2 separate regions of the Homo sapiens genome follow, and region 2 is linked to region 1. The links come from fine-mapping of genetic effects on gene expression. A gene starts in region 1. The other region holds a variant in brackets. All regions are shown on one strand. Distances are from middle to middle. Region 1 holds the start of CHML (CHM like Rab escort protein). Region 2 overlaps KMO (kynurenine 3-monooxygenase).

What was found. PIP is the estimated chance that this variant, and not a neighbour inherited with it, causes the effect.
Region 2: its variant is fine-mapped to the expression of CHML in whole blood (INTERVAL, PIP above 0.99).

Annotation. Positions count from the first base shown.
Region 1 is chr1:241,636,026-241,644,365 of GRCh38, forward strand. It overlaps CHML (CHM like Rab escort protein), which reads right to left and starts at 4,344. Exons shown (of 2, transcript NM_001381853.1): 1 at 3,857-4,344; 2 at 1-48. OPN3 (opsin 3) reads right to left here and starts at 4,344. Exons shown (of 4, transcript NM_014322.3): 1 at 3,857-4,344. The coding sequence starts at 4,229. RefSeq lists enhancers at 3,471-4,041, 4,042-4,611 and silencers at 3,714-3,763, 4,094-4,673.
Region 2 is chr1:241,533,476-241,541,815 of GRCh38, forward strand. The region is part of intron 1 of KMO (kynurenine 3-monooxygenase); the gene reads left to right. Among named protein-coding and RNA genes, the nearest start is that of KMO, 5.3 kb to the left of the region's middle. The variant C/T (reference allele first, on the strand shown) is at 3,728.

The sequences.
Region 1 (8,340 bases):
GTAAATGTCAAAATGCATCATATATGCATTTGTGACTGGAACTCTTCTCTGAAAGAAGAAAATTCAAGAAAGAATACATTGTAAACAATATAAGAGAAAAATAATTTCATGCAACAATGACAATCCATTGGAGTGTGACATCTTATTTGGACATAAACCTCTACTAAAGCATGTCTTAAATGCTTTCTCACATATTTTCTAATTTCTTGAGAATGGACAATAGAGATATAACAGCCCTCCCAAGAATCAGGCAACATAGTAATAGAGAATGAACATAATGTTCCACAAAAATAAAGAAGAAATAACATAATACAATTCTCTAACTTTAGCTTTTAAGAAAACTATCATGTGAATAAATCTATACACAGCTGTGAGCTTAGACTAAAAGGAACGCATGGCTCCACTGTTTATAGAAACAGATTATAAACTATGTGCATACTGCCATGATTCAAAATATTTCTGTGGCCATTACAGTCTATGTGTGATTCCAGAACAGCTGAATATAAGACCTTTCCATGCCACAACCACCCTTAGGATCTCATGGTAGCAACATGAGACTATTTCTACTCAATTACTAGTCAGATTATTACAAAAGGATTAATTCAGTAAAACAACTGGCCATTTAAAAATATTTAGGCTCATAATAGCCCTGAGGAGGAAAATGTATTAAAAATATTATATGAATGTACACATGCATATAAGTAATAAAGGAAAAAAGTGTGTAAGTGTAAGTAAAAAAGGAAAACTTCTGATTTCATATTAAAATATCTTAACATAAATAATACCTACTTCTAACATTTGAATACAGTGATGTTTGCATTTCGCCACTGTCTCTGCAACCCTGAATCTCTGCATCCCAAGCAAAAGGTCTATCTAAACATCCTCTGCCAAGACTAACACTGTTTGTTCTTATTTTTGAAGGGGAAGTTTAAAAAAAAAAAAATAATAAGGTTCTCCTGTTAACTTTGAGCATAATGCTGGTTACATTCCATGTGCGGAAGACATCTGTGTGATGCCCTGTGTGGCCAGAGGTAGAAAGGCCAAGGTGCTGAAGAGCATACTCACCTGAAAGTCTTTAGGCTAAAGCAACAATACTGCTAAACTTTCTAATATTCATCATTGCACAGTTTTGAGCTCTGGTTTTCACTACTGTTAAACCTACTGAAATATAAATCAGTACAAGCTGTACCTGTCTAGCCCAAGATGACTAATAATCCTGGATACTGGAAAAACAAGCCATTCAATTGGAACTTAGATTAAATTGCATAGGGCACACACCTTTAGTTTAACTAAAATGGCAATCCTAACAGTCCTGTCTAGTCAAAGCCTCTGTCTCAAAAATATCAAGGATTCCACTCATTTTTGGCATTCCCTAAGAAGCCAGGAACTAAGTACAGAATGCAGCAGTTGCCTGGCCCACTCAAGTATAAATATAAGTATGTCTGAATTACTTATTCTGCTTCTTCCAGCAGGGTGTGAAGATGGAGACTGAATCTATGATGGTATCTGAAGAGGTGTAACCATAGTACATGCTGCTTCTTGGCTTAGAAAGACAGGGCTCAGGGTAGGAGTAGGAGCAGAAGACACAATCAATAAGCGCTAAGATCAGGCACGTTCTAACCTACAGATATCAAAGGGGTCATCAAAATGCAAAGCAAGTAGGATGGCCTTACAGAGCATTAAGCTGAATTACCCAATAATAGAGATGAGAGAACTGATAGCTGGAGAGATTAAGTGACTTGAGAAAGCCCGCACAATGCATGAGTCGCAGGATAAGGAACAGGATCCACTCTTGTGCCATCAGACCAATGGTCTTTCCAACAGATAGGGCAAGCCTCTCCAAAAGCCTCTGCATCAAGAAGCTACTTCCCTCATTTTTAACTTCCTCCCCTTCAATACTCCACTGTTAGGTAGTTCTTGCTCAGGGATAACTCAGGAAGTGCCCTCCTTTTCTTCATCCTTAACCTGGATCTAGAAGCACAAACTCCGGAATTTACTCCAGGCAAAGAAATCATCTTCGCTAAAAACTTTTTAAACTCTATAGTAACTTCACTACTAACTTGCCCCCCAGGGCTTAAGTCTCGGAATCTCTTATCTCAGGGTTTCCACCTCTACATTAAAAACAGGGAGAAAGTCATGGTTGAAAGCACTAAATGCCCTGAAAAATAGGGCAGCCCTCAGGCAAAAATCTAAGTGAACTTAGAAAATCACTGGGCTGGGACCCTAGGAGGGATGGTGAAGAAGAAAAACAGGAAGGGAGAAGTGACCAGGAGACACAGGAGGGTGGGATCAGCAGAGGAAAGAGGTGAGGAAGAGGGTGGATGACAGCTAGCACTTATAAAGAACTCAGTACACCCTTGTGTTCAAACTCCCGGGCACGAAAACAGAATTTTCCAGCACAGAAAAGGCACTTCAAGGAAAAAAGAACTTTGATGTCTGTGAACAAACACCTGTTGACTACCCTGGAGAACACTACTGATGATACTTTAGGCTTGGGCTTGAATAACCTTCTTAGCATTGCCGAAGAAACTGCCTGATAGGTATTTTACAATTAATATAAGGAGTGTAATCCCATAGTCGTCCATACCACAGCCTACATACACTTGCAGTCCCCTCCCTAAATTTCAAATGTTTGTTCAAATGAAATTATCAGATTAAAGCTTATGAGGGGCGGGGAGGAAAATATTATAACCTCTGAAGCAATCAAATAAAATCTATTTTCTTATTTCCTTCAAAACGCCAAAAAATGAATCATTACAAATATAATATTTGGGTTTGTCATAGCATAGAGGTTACTGAATAAGAAAATATTTTTGATAATTCTACAAAGATTTTTGTTCTCCCAAACCTACCAAGATTAAAGCAATAAAGTATCAATGGATTTCAGGATTTAAAAAAGGAACTTTAAGCCTTGAGAAATACACATTTCTATTTCAAATCTCCCTACAAATGAAATTCCTGAGGCACACAAAAAAATAATTTCCTTTCTACGCTTCCTTCAATGATTTGCTGAGTTGTTGATCATCCTTCAAAACATCATGTCTCAGTGAAACTTAAATCTTCCATAATAAGAGTACTGTCGAAATACATCTTCAACAATGAAGTTCTACTTTAATGAAATCTACCGATTGCAGAGCTAATTACAGTATTTGTTCACCTGAGATGGTATTGGCTGAGCCATTTGTAATCTCACCCAAGATTCTGGTGTGCTGGAACCCATCTATAAGACGGAAAATAGTAAAAACAGCTTACAGGGCACATGCCAATTTGCATTCTGAGGACCTGAATGAAACTGTCTCATTCCCTAGAAAGCATTCAAAGGTTTACAAGTACTAATGAGAATTTTTTTTTACACATTGTTATTTTGGTTTTCTACTCTCATTTTAGGAAACAAATAGTAGTACATGAATCTAATCTCATCACTCCCTCCAACTTTCACGAGTTAATCACTTTTTTTCTTGAATCTCTTGACTCTACAGGCCCTCGTCTCTTTCCTCAAAGTGTAAAAAGCCGTGGTTTCGTGCCTTGTTGAGTGATCTTAGGAGGTAAAAACAAATAAGAAAGGAGGCGGGCCGGGGTTTGGGGTCAACGTGGGGGGCAGATGAGAGACCACAGGAATGGAGTCCTGGACAGCGTGGGGCGGGAGGGGACGGAGGAAGAGGAAGGCACCCGCCATGCGGCTGGGGTCGGGCAGCGTTGAGGAGGCGAGCGGGGAGCGGGGCGGTGTAGGGCGGGGGGCGCGGGGCCGAGCGGGAAGCGGTGCGGGGCGGGCTGGGGGGCGGACGCACGGAGCGGGCAGCGGGGTGGGGAGTGGAAGTTTGCAGAGGGGAGGCTGCCTTCTCCCAGTCCAACTCACCGAAGAGGCTGCCGCTAAACCCGTCCCACACGCAGCCCACGGTGTCCCACACCCAGCCGTTCCTCAGGCAGGACACGAAGGTAAAGGTGACCCCGAAGAGGGACACCAGCAGGTCGCTGAGGCTGATGTTGACCAGGAGGAGGTGAGTGGGAGTGCGGAGCCGCTGGAACTTGTAGTAGAGGACGAGCACCAGCAGGTTGTTGCCGACGCCCAGCAGCCCAATGGAGCCCAGCAGCAGCGCCAGGCGCTCGTAGGTGCCGGGGCTGAAGAGGGGCGCGGGGCTCAGTGTCCCCGCCGGCGCCGGCCCCTCAGCGCCCGCGGCCCCGCCGCCGTCCCAGTAGCCGTGGCCGCCGCTGCGGTTCCCCGAGTACATGGCCCGGCGCCGGCGCGCCTGGCGGGCGGAGGCGCTCAGCTTGCGGCGGGGCTCGCGGCGCGCTCCGCACTGGGTGGGGTTGGGGCTCCGCCGCCTGCTCTAGCCATTGTGCACTGAGGGGCCCGCGCTACCGCGCGCCGGGCCCGCCCTCTTCCCGCCCCTTCCGCCCGGCGCACCCCCCGTGGCCCCGCCCCTCCCCGCGGCCTGTCCTCGTCGCTCCGCTGCTCCCGGCGCGTCCTCTTAGCCCCGCCCCCCCGCGGGCGCGTCCTCGCGGCTAGCTCGCCCCGCCCCCACTGGCTGGGCACCTTCCGCTGGTCGGCGTGGACGCGCGTCGCGGGATAGCCTGGGGGCCAGGGCCGCAGGGTAGCCTCGATGGCTCTTCACACCCCCACCTCCCTGCACCCACCTTGAAAGCTTCGTGTCCACTCACCCATTCATGCACTCACTTATACATTCATTTATTCCTAAGTATTTATGAGCGCCTGCGCCCACCACGTGCTGGCAAGAATTGGGTTTCTCCCCTTCCTGGGAAGCTGTAATAACCCACAACCAGCCTACGAAGCCCATCCCGCGTCATACACTCAATGTAAACAAAAGCAAAGAAAACATTGAAGAGCTCGGGGTAGTCTTACCGGAAAACTGAGAAGAAAAACAACAAATTGATAGACAGGTGCCTGCCTAACTACCTGACTGCTAGAGGACACATGTCCCAGGGCTGATACAAGAGCCTGCCACCCTTGGAGAGTCTGGGATGAAAACTCTCTGAAAATGGCATTCCAATGGAACTGACTTTAAGCCCTGGGCTGGACCCCAAGGCCTTCCAATACCGTCCTTCCTGTGCTTGAAAGCGTGGGTAGATCTTTCCGGTCACTGAGGCCTGCTAAAGTCCTTCACAGGCAGTGAAAGATTCAACCTAAATCTAGCAGGTATAGGAGGCAGGTGCTATATTTAGAACAGCACACATTTCCCATTGGGCCTCTTCTCCTGTAGTGATGAGAATATAGTACAAGTCAAATATAGGTTGTGAACGTCATCACACTCTGCAAGAGCTGCTTCTGCCTTTGTGGTTGCACAATCCCTAAGGAGGCCCTACAAGAAGATCACAGTCCCCAGCCACACCTGCAGCCTGTCCTGGACACTGGTGACGAACACAGGGTTTGTGCAAGCTAAAGAAACTGCTCTCCATACGGGCGTGCCTCACCTCTGTTTGAAAGATCAGTAGGGAATGACTAGCTTGGATCAATCCACATTCTGAATTCCCTGGAGAGAGGATCTAATAGGCTGGCAGCAGCTCTCCACCCTGGTGCACTGAGCAATAGCTAAGGGGCAGTGTGCTCTGCCTTTGACACCTTGATTTTCCTTCAAGGCTTCTGCTCTGGACTCGCCATCTGTGAGACTTCCTACCCACCCACCCCTTAAAAAACACACACACACTTTTAATTGTTAATTTTAGATTTGTACAACCACTGAACAAAACATAACTATTTAACAAGTTCTATATGTTTAATGTCGAAAGTGTTTTCTGTGTCTAGTCTACAGTAAGTTCTCAATAAATAGTAATTTGAATGAATGAATAAAGAACTCGCTATATTTTTTCCTATTCATTCTTCATTGCTGAGTCATTGCCCTTATAAAGCTCACATTCCAGTCGTGTTGGGAGAACAAACAAAAATTAGATAAATACGTAGGGTGTCAGCCACTGACAAATGCCATGAAGAAATAGGGGTCAGGCGTGGTGGCTCATTCCTGTAACCCCAGCACTTTGGGAGGCCGAGGCAGTAGGATTTCTTAAGCCCAGGAGTTCAAGACCAGCCTGGGCAACAAAGTGAGAACTGCCCCCTAACTCTTCAAAAAATAGAAAATTAGCCAGGCAAGATGGTACATGTCTGTGGTCCCAGCTACTCAGGAGGTTGAGCCAGGAGCTATGGGAGATGGGGCAAGGAGTTTGTAAGAGTTAAAGAAAGAGGAAAGAAACACTAATAGCAGCTCAACAGTCAGACAGTGTTATTTGGAAGAATAAACCTAAGAGGGGCTTCTGGCCGATTTCGGTCAGGAGCACTCTCTTACAGACTAAGAGTATTTAAGGATTTTAGAGTGAGAGAGCTTATCACAGGCGTGGAATGTTTCTGTTTGGAGAAGAAGTTTATTGCCAAGTTGGAATGTCTCTGTCGGAGGGGAGGTTATCTCGGGGCTCGCATGTCTCTGGTCAGGGAGGGGTTTATCTTAGGGTTGGAATGTTTCTGGTCGGAGATGTCATTTGTGGTGTATGGTCATGCTGACCTTAGCCATTAGGCTGATGCTGTTTGGATTTAGGTGGTTTTTGATCAAGGGGAACTTTAAAATGGCAGTGCTTGTCCATGATGGTGATGCACCTGCTCTGTCAAGGTTGTTATTTAGACAAGGTGGTTATGGGCAGGAGTACTGTATTGGTATGTTGGAGGAACAATAAGGAAGCAAGAATGAGAATCGGGAAATGCAGCCAGTCAGGTGGGTGTGCAGTGAATGGCCAGAATATGCAGGACCTTGGCCATTTCAATAAAAGGACTTTGGCTTTTACTCAATCAGAGTAAAGTCCAGGGCAATGCCTACTAGCAGTGAATGCAAAGGAGGAGTAAGAGGCCTTTGACAAATGCTTAAGCATTTTTGACACAGTAATTTTACAATACTATGAACCATTAAGGACATTTATTGAGCTTGACAGAAACAGGCAATGATAAGGATATATGTTTCTTTTTTAATTTTAGAATTATGTAATGACAGGATAATGGCAGAACACTACAATCTTTTATTAAAAAAAAAAACAAAAAACAAACAAATGAAAAACACCAGCATGATATAGTTTGGATGTTTGTCCCCACCCAAATCTCATGTTGAAATATAATCCCCAATATTAGAGGTGGGTCCTAGTGGTAGGTGTTTTGGTCATAGGGGGCGGATCCCTCATGAATGGCCTGGGCCATCCCCTTTGTGATAAGTGAGCTCTGGTCATCTAAAAGTGTGTGGCAACTCCGCCATCCCACTCTCTCTCTCTCTCTCTCCCTATCTGGTTGTCGCCATGTGAGATGCCTGCTCTCACTTTGCCTTCCACCATGAGTAAAAGCTCCCTGAGGCCTCCCCAGAAGCTGAGTAGATGCCAACACCATGCTTCCTGTACAGCCTGCAGAACTGTGAGCCAATTAAATCGCTTTTCTTTATAAATTACCCAGTCTCAGGTATTTACAGCAGTGCAAGAACAGCCTAATACACAGCATAAGGACAAACATGTAGACCAATGGAATAGAATAGAGAGCCAAGATATAAACTCTTACATATATGGTCCATTGATTTTTGACAAGGATGCCAAGGCCATTCAATGGGGAAAGGAGGAAAGGACAGTCTTTTCAACAAATGATGCTGGGAAAACTGCATATCCATGTGCAAATGAATGAAGTTGGAGCCTTACATTATATCATATATAAAAATTAACTCAAAATTGATTGGAGACCTATATGTAAAAGCTAAAACTATAAAACTTTTAGAAGAAAACTTCTTGGGTATGACACCAAAAGCACAGGCAACAGGAGAAAAATAGCTAAATTGGACTTTATCAAAATTAAAAACTGTTATGCATCAAAGGGCACTATCAAAAGAGTGAAAAGACAGCACAGCAAATGGGAGAAATACTTGCAAGTCATATATCTGATAAGGCATCAATATTATAAAGACCCCCTACAACTCAACAACAAAAAACTCCACACAACCCAATTCAGAAATAGGCAAAGGATCTGAGTAGACATTACTCCAAAAATATACTAATGGCCTAAAAGCACATGGAAGGAAACTTACTGTGATTAGTCATTAGGGAAATGCAAATCAAAGCCACAATGACATACCACTTCACACCTACTAGAAGGGCTATCATCAAAAAACAAAACAAAACACAAAAACAAGTGTTGGTTTTTGTGTGGAGATGTGTAGAAATTAGAACCCTGTCGTACTGCTGATGGGAATGTGAAATGGTGTGGCTCCTGTGGAAGACAATTTGGTAGTTCCACAAAAAGTTAAACATAGAATTATTGTGAGCTCATTCCTGTAATCCCAGTGCTTTGGGAAGCTTAAGCAGGATGATCAC
Region 2 (8,340 bases), 100 kb before region 1:
CAGTTCTTTTAATATTTCTGATTCTAAATTTTCATTTAGAAATGCTATCACATGATGTGTTGGTCACTGGTTGGGACATGTGTCGTCACTGCTTCATACTAGGCTTGTGTCCAATCTGTCCTATCAAAATGTTGCACAAAATGAGAATTCATGTGTTCAACAAAATCTGATTACTATGTACCAATATTGTTTTAGGTAGTAGGGATGCGAGGGTGAGAATTCCAGAGAAGAAAAAGACAAGGAAGAAGAAAACAAATAAGACAATTTCAGTTAAAGAGAAGCACTATGAAAGAAACGAAAACAGGGTAGTGCTGTAGAGAGTATCTTTGGGAGTACCTGTTTAGAATGTGGTCAGGGACAGCTGCTCTGCTGAAGGGACATGTGACCAGAGACCTGAATGATCAGATAGAACTAACTACGTGAAGATCTTGAGAAAGAGCATTTCAGGCAGAGGGAACAGCAGGAAGAGAAACCCTCAGGCAATAATGAGCTGCCCAAGTTCAAGGAGCAGAAAGAAAGGCAGGAACTGCCTGAGGCCAGAGAAGAGTAGCTGATGAGGCCAGAAAAGCTGACAGACCAGATCTTGTAGGATCTTAGAGGTCCAGGCAAGAAGATCAGATTTTGTTCAAATTACAATGGGAAACTATTGGAGGATTTTAGGCAGGAAATTAAGTTGTGATTTTAAAAGGTCCCTTGGACCATTATGTGGAGAATGACTAGGAACATTTTAAGATGACAAGATAGACCAGTTAGGAGGCTGTTACGTTAGCTCAAGACTTGGACTAAGGTGGCAGCAGTGATGTCTCATTTTAAAAATTGTCTCTTAGAAATCCAAGGGAGAGATAACAAATATGTGATTGTATATATGGTTTTGGGGGGCATAAAAATGTGGGTGTCATCCATGGATTTCTCCCTGAATAACATGAGATTGTCATCATGTAACCACGTCATACATATGCTGGAAAATAGGAGACAAAAATTACTACTTGCGTATTAGGGAGCAACTAAAATTCCTCTGCAAAAGAATTCTATCCATCCTATTGTTCAAGTCCATGCTTACGCATCATGTTTGATTCCTATTGTCATTTTGTGCAAACGCTTATTCTTCTTTCACTCCATCAGTAAGCCTTGAGGCTCTATATCCAAAATACATTTAAATTCTAGCCATTACAACCATCCTGGCCCAAGCCATTATCATCCGCCATCCTTATTCCTGCAACAAGCTCCAAATTAGTCTCCCAGCTTTAACTCCTTTTCCCTTATAGTCCATACTACACACCACAGCCAGAAACACCCTTCTAAAACATGAGTCTGATCATTATCATCCCCTGCTTAAAATCTTCCAATGATCTCCCATTACAAATAAAATAAAACCCAAACTCTTTACCAAAGGTCTTGTCTGAACTAAGCCTATCTGCCTTTCTGGCTTCACCCCTTTCCCTTTTTATTTGTTAATCTTATCTACCAGTATCGGAAATTACACACTTTGGGTTTTTTTTTTTAACCTGTTTCTTAGATATCTACTCCAACTAGGATATAAACTCTTATTAACCAATGTATTCCAGAGGCTGTAATTATGCCTAACATTATGTATTGGGTGGATGAATAAATGAGAGGAATGAGAAAACTTAATGATATAAAGGTGAAAAAATAATAACAGATGCATGTTTGAATATTGAGAAAATTATTTTTAAAAGTATTGACTAAATAGAGCAATTCAAGAAGGTTAATGTCTTTACATAGAGGACAAGATTACATTTTTGCCCATCTTCTTCTGTTTTTTTTTCCACCCTCCCTTCCTACCTCCTCCTTTCCATAAACCATATCCCAGTACCTTATACTGTCTAACACATTAAAGGCTCTCCCCTGGCCCCTAGAAAAAAAAATGAGAGTTGAGAACCTTTACTTAGACATCCAAAAAATATAGTGAACTTCCCTCAATTCTTATCAGTGGTAGCTTACCATGTCTAGTAAACTTGCCTAATGAAAAGTCACCCTGAGAAGTTATTCTTGCTCTGATGTAGTGATCATCTGATATTGGGTTAAACCAGTTGATTTCCTTTCTTTGAAGACATGTTCAGTCAAAGAGATCAACAAACCAGTAAAAAAACTCCTAATGAGAAACAAAAGGTAAAAGAAACTAAACCATAATCATAAACCAGGTAAAGTTTAAATATTGAAAAACAAGTGGGAAAAGATGTTAAAATAGCATTTCAAGAACATTGACCTAAATATTTAGAAAGACCCCTGTATTGACTGATATTTTCCTCCTTGTGTGAATTACAACTCCCCCATCCCTTCTCCAGCCAATGGGATTACCTCCTGCTAGTTCCAGAAGGTAACTGCAGGACAATCAACCTGTGAAGGCTTCTCCTCTCTTTAAATGCCCACAGGGCTTTGTTTGTCATTATCAAATGCTGCCTTCTATTAAAATTTTGTTATGCATAGTTTATTCCCCATAGAAGCTTTTTACTTCGTAGATCTAAAGATTATTTTATCTTTGGCTCCTGCTACCTTTATAAAGGTTTCCCAGTGCCTTATAATGTGAGCCACACTAAAATATTTTCTGTGCATGAGTTTGATTTCAGAACAAAGTGGAGAATCACTCCTTTAGAAGTTATGGGAAATTTTTAAAGAGTTTTTTTTTTAACACAATTATGTCATGAGGAATGTAGTCCTTTCAATGAGTAACTTAAAAAAGGATTTGGAAAATAATCTCAATTTTGCATGCTGGAAGGAGTTCTACAGTGTAGCTTTTCAATTCTAGCACATCATTTCAAAAAAAACCTGCATTACAAAAAAACTGCCATACAAACTGCCTTACTTCATGTTAGAGTGATATGTTTTCTTTTCTTTATGAAGTGAGAGAGAAGTAGACAAGCCAGAGAAGTAAACAAAGGCCATCTAAGCTAAACAAGTGTCCTTAATCCACATCTGAATTCAGTCCTTAAGACTCAGAAAATACTGCTTTTGATAACTGTTTTCAGTGTTTACAGGTATGACGAAAGTGATCAGAGCAAAAAGGCACCATTTCAGTGACAGCTAAAGCTACTCAAGACACCATTTTTTGACTGAAGCCAAGAGCCTTGGTAAGAGGGCTATTAAGCATTCCAGTCTCAGCTGACTCCTGCTGTTGCAATGTATGTCCACTATTCTAGCATGTATTTTGGAGATGTATTTTAGGATATCATTCAAATATTTCTTCTGTTCCTTTCTGCAAAAAAGAAACCCCACTGTAGAGAGCTTTGTGATCTACTCTCCCTATGTTTGACCCAGGAAAGTTCTCCATTTAGTAGTATTTAGAGGGTGAGGAGATTTGTACGTATTTTGACTTATTGTTGATAATTGTGCCCTGCCCCCTGGAATTCAAGTCAAGTCAGTGGCCTCTGCTGATGAAATTGCTTTTGAGGCAACTTGACCTTGACTCTATGAGAGTTTATGTCTCACAGCTATAGATGTTAAATCCTGTCATGGATTTATAGGCTCAAAATGGTCTTGATGCCAAACTGTCCCCAAATGGTGTTTCTGTTCTGTTCTTCTTAGGATTTTTCCACCTCACCACTTACTCTTCACTCAGCTTCATGGGATGGAAAAAACATTATTCATTGAGGGGACTGGGAATAGCAGAGTTTGCAACCAGCTGGACACTCAGGAAATCTTACCCTATGGGTCTCAGTTTCTTCCTCTTGGACTAAAACTAGATTGCTAGTCTTTTAACACTAAAATT[C/T]TACTGCTTCTTTTTCACACTTTCTCGCTCACAGATCTCTAGCTTTGTTCTCAACCTACTCCTTTCTAAAAAAAGAAATCAAATGTCACCCAGAATTTTCACTTTCCCTGAAGTAAACGTCCTCAGTGCATATGAACCATCAAATGGCTTATAATCCTGGGTTGAGGTCTACACAGAATTTGATTCAAGTGCATACTTTATATTTTTTGCAAATATTAATGAGCTATACCATGAAAAAGACATAATTACTGTTAACCTTTATTGTTATTATTTTATCAATGTGAAAATAAACTAAGCTCTATTTGCTCTACTCTTGTTTTGATACCAAACTAGGCTTGTTCTGCCCAGCATGCAGTAAGTCAGTTACTGAGATAACAAGTGTATTAATCCGTTTTCATGTTGCTGATAAAGACCTACCTGAGACTGGGCAATTTATAAAGAAAAAGAGGTTTAATGGACTCAGTTCCACGTGACTGGGGAGGTCTCATGATGATGGTGAAAGGCAAAAGGCATGTCTTACATGGTGGCAGGCAAGAGACGGCATGCAGGGGAACTCTCCTTTATAAAATCATCAGATTTCATGAGACTCATTCACTATCACGAGAACAGCATGGGAAAGACCCAATCCCATGATTCAATTACCTACCGCTGGGTCCCTCCCACAACACATGAGGATTATGGAAGCTACAATTCAAGATGAGATTTGGGTGGGGACACAACCAAACCATATCAACAAGTTTTGCAGTAAAGAGAAGATTTTATTCACAGGACAGCCCAGCAAGGAGATGGAAGAACAGCTTTCAAATCCACCTCTCCAAAGATAGGGCTTAGAGATATTTATGGGGTAAAGAAGCAGGGTGGTCTAAGGTGTGGGGAAGGTGATTAGCAGTGGGGAAAAATGAATAGGTGGTCTGAGCATGCATAATCAAGGTTCATGACTCTTCATAGGACACATGTTCAGAAAATGGTGGCATTAGCATGCTGTGAAGGTGAGGTTTTTGGCCTTCTGGTATCAGAAAGTCACTTCTTGGGCATTTGTGCAGGCCCAGTTGAAGGGCCTGCAACTCTCTTCTTTCCTTCTTCTATCTGCTTTCTCATTCTCCTATTATCCTTACTCCATAGTAATAAGGCCCAGGAGTCAATGGGCAAGGTAGAAAGAGGGTTGGTGGTCTCTTTCAAGTAGTTTAACTTGGGTAAGAACACCTAGTTCCTGAAAACAAAAACAAAAACAAAAACTTTAAGCAACTATTACCATAGTGACATACATGCCAGAGACGTTGTCTATAAGGAAGCTAGTGACAGATTAGATGTATATTGTTTGGCTACATGACTTTTAGCTATATGGGCTTTGAGATCAACTAGAAGTAAGCAATAAAAAGCAAGCAAGGCAGGCTGTTTGGTGGGCCTCACCATGTTAGACCTGGGTTTCAGTTTTCTATTTCATAGGCTCTGAGCCTTCTTAAATATGAAAAACTCTCATTAGTGGCCCATATCTAGCACCTTCTAAAAACAGAGGTGGAATGGATTTCTTTGTGGCTGTGCCTCATAAATCCCACTCTCACCTCAGGGAATTCATCCCTCAGAGATTCCTTCATTTGCTATCTGGTGGGAAGTATCTGGAATGGAACCAACAACTTTAGACAGCTCCAGACTTTGTTAAGTGCCTACAAAGAGTGTGTCTTTCATTCCTTCTCATTTGGCGCATCCTCCTCCCAAATACTCTCAGATTATTTCCCTTCTGTCCATATTCACTCATGCATTCGTCTAGTCCTCTATCTGTCTACTCAAAGAAAAAGAGCACCCTCATACACTGTTGATGGTAATCTAAGCCGGTATTTTTTTCCTGGAAAACAACTTGAAAATATACACATCTGTAGTCTTAAAAATAGTGGGGATTTGGCTGGGCACGGTGGCTCAGGCCTGTAATCCTAGCACTTTGGGAGTCCGAGGTGGGTGGATTGCCTGAGCTCAAGAGTTCGAGACCAGTCTGGGTAACACAGTGAAACCCCATCTCTACTGAAACACAAAAAAATTAGCCAGGCATGGCAGTGTGTGCCTGTAGTCCCAGTTATTCGGGAGGCTGAGGCAGGAGAATTGCTTGAACCTGGGAGGCAAAGGTTTCAGTGAGCTGAGATCGTGCCACTGCATTCCAGTCTGGGCAACGGAGTGAGACTCCGTCTCAAAAAAATTCCAGAAAGCAGCAATAGCTACTTCACCCTTGAAGTTGGCCTAAGCATGGCATTGCATTCAGAGTAACAACTGTCCTTCAGCCAATGAGAAATTAAAAGCAAATAGAATCTAATGTAGGCTCTCAAAAACATCAAATCTGGAGTGTATTCAAAACTCCCAACAAAACCTTCTGAAATGATATTGCCCCAGTCAATCTGAATCTCTTTCGTGTGCTTTGCAGTTATTCCAAAAGCAAGACAAAGGAAGATTGAGCAGGCTCCTCTTACGCTCTAGACCATCAATATTCTCTCCGCAGCTCACTTCAGACTCTCTTCTTTCCCTCTTTGTTTTCTCATTCCCCTGTTATCCTTACTCCATTCCCCCACTAGTAATAAGGCCCAGGAGCCAACGGGGCAGGTAGAAGGAGGGTGTGGAGCTCGGAATTGGCCAGTGTTTCAATCCCTTTTATTCAAAATTGCCCTTTGGTGGGCCATTTCATTAGTGAGATTTTATCAAAAGAAACGTGTATGCGTCATACAATTGTCTATAATGCTAAAGAATTAAAATAACTTGAATATCCAAATATAAGCACACTGCCTACAATCAAATGTAATGCAAGTATTAAATGCTTTTACTTCAGACATCTTTTGACGTGGAAATGTATTTAGAGTACACTTTTCATTTTTTGAAAGAAATTATGAAAGAAAATATACAACCTGTTACCATTTTGAAAAGAAATATCATGTATTTTATATACATAGAAAATGTTAATATTGGTTGCCATTGGTGGTAAAATTGTGAGGAATTATTTTTTTCTTCACATTTACCTGTATTTTCTAATTCATTAGAATTTGTGGTTTATATCAGAGATAAAAAGACAAAATACAAGCCATGCAAATATTATTCCTCTCTGGGAATTTACTGCCTGGTGGAAGTCAGACAAGACTATAAATAAATAATTCAATGTACTTGAGACATTAAAACACATCTATATACATATATATATATAATTACAGAAGAAAAGGCAAACAAGTCTTTTGGAGGAGTAGAGGTATCAGGAAAAACTACACTGAGGATATGAGTCTTAAAGGAAAGGTAGGCATTTTCCAAAAACTGAATATAAGGCAGGGAAGGATAGTATTCAAAGGCATGGAAGAATAAAAGTGCATGGCATATTCAGAAAACATATAGTAAATTTAGTATGCCTATTACAGATGGTGCAAGAGAATAGTGCATGAGATAGTGCATGAGAATAGTGCATAATGAACTGGAGAAAGAGGTTGGGATCACATGTAAGAATCCATTATGTCATATTGAAAATTTGGAATTTTTTCCTGAAAAGATAAGGAGCTAATAAACAACTGTAAGACAAAAATAATCATTCAACATCTTATTTAGAAGATAATTAGTGATTGGGCATGATGGTTCATGCCTATAATCTCAGCTGTTTGGGGGGCCGAGGCAGAAGGATCACATGAACCCAGGGGTTTGAGACCAGCCTTGGCAACATAGCAAGATCCTGTCTCTACAAAAATTAAAAAAATTAGCCAGGCATAGCAGCACACCTGTAATCACAGCTACTTGGGAGGCCAAGGCAGGAGATCACTTGAACCCAGGAGTTCAAGGTTGCAGTGAACTATGATCTCAGCCTTGCATGCCTGCCTGGGTGACAGAACAAGACCCTGTCTAAAAAGAAAATAAAAAGAAGATGACTAGTTCTAGTGCAGAGTACAGATTGAATGCATACAGACTGGGGAAAGAGGGTTATTAGAAAACGGTTGCAGTAGCCTGGTAAAAGCTAATGAGGGCCCCATGTAAGGACAGAGCTGTGGGTAGCAGAAGATCTGCTGTGAGAGAGACTGAAGAGGAACAATCAATAGGACGTATTGCCTAGCTTCATGTATACTGGTAGGTAGAGAGGGGTGTTAAATATTCACCGAGCTACCCTGGTTGGGTGAATTAGTGAATGCAATTGCTATTCTCTAAGATATGAAATATATAAGGAGGAAGAAAGTTTATGGAATACAGAATACAGAAGAAGGAGAATGAGAGGGCTGAGGAATGGGAATAAGTCAACTTTTAGCTATGTTGAGAGGGAGATGCCTATAGACAGGTTCAGTAGTCACAGATGGAGTTCAGGACGAAGATCAAGACTAGAGTAAAAGTCATAAATTTTCTTAAGAGCACTCAGGAATGTGCATCATTCACCTTCTCATAAGAGGGAAAATCAAGACCACTGCTTGGCTTTAGAGATCAATTCCAGATGACACAGATTAGAGAACTCAGGGTAAGGATTAAATAATAAAACAATATTTGGCATAACATATGCAATTCTGGAAGATGTAATATTTACTAACAAAGTATGAAGACACTGATGTGCTTATTGCATTGTAAGTAGAGTTAACAGTCTGATTCTTCTCATTGCATTGATATACCCAAAGATC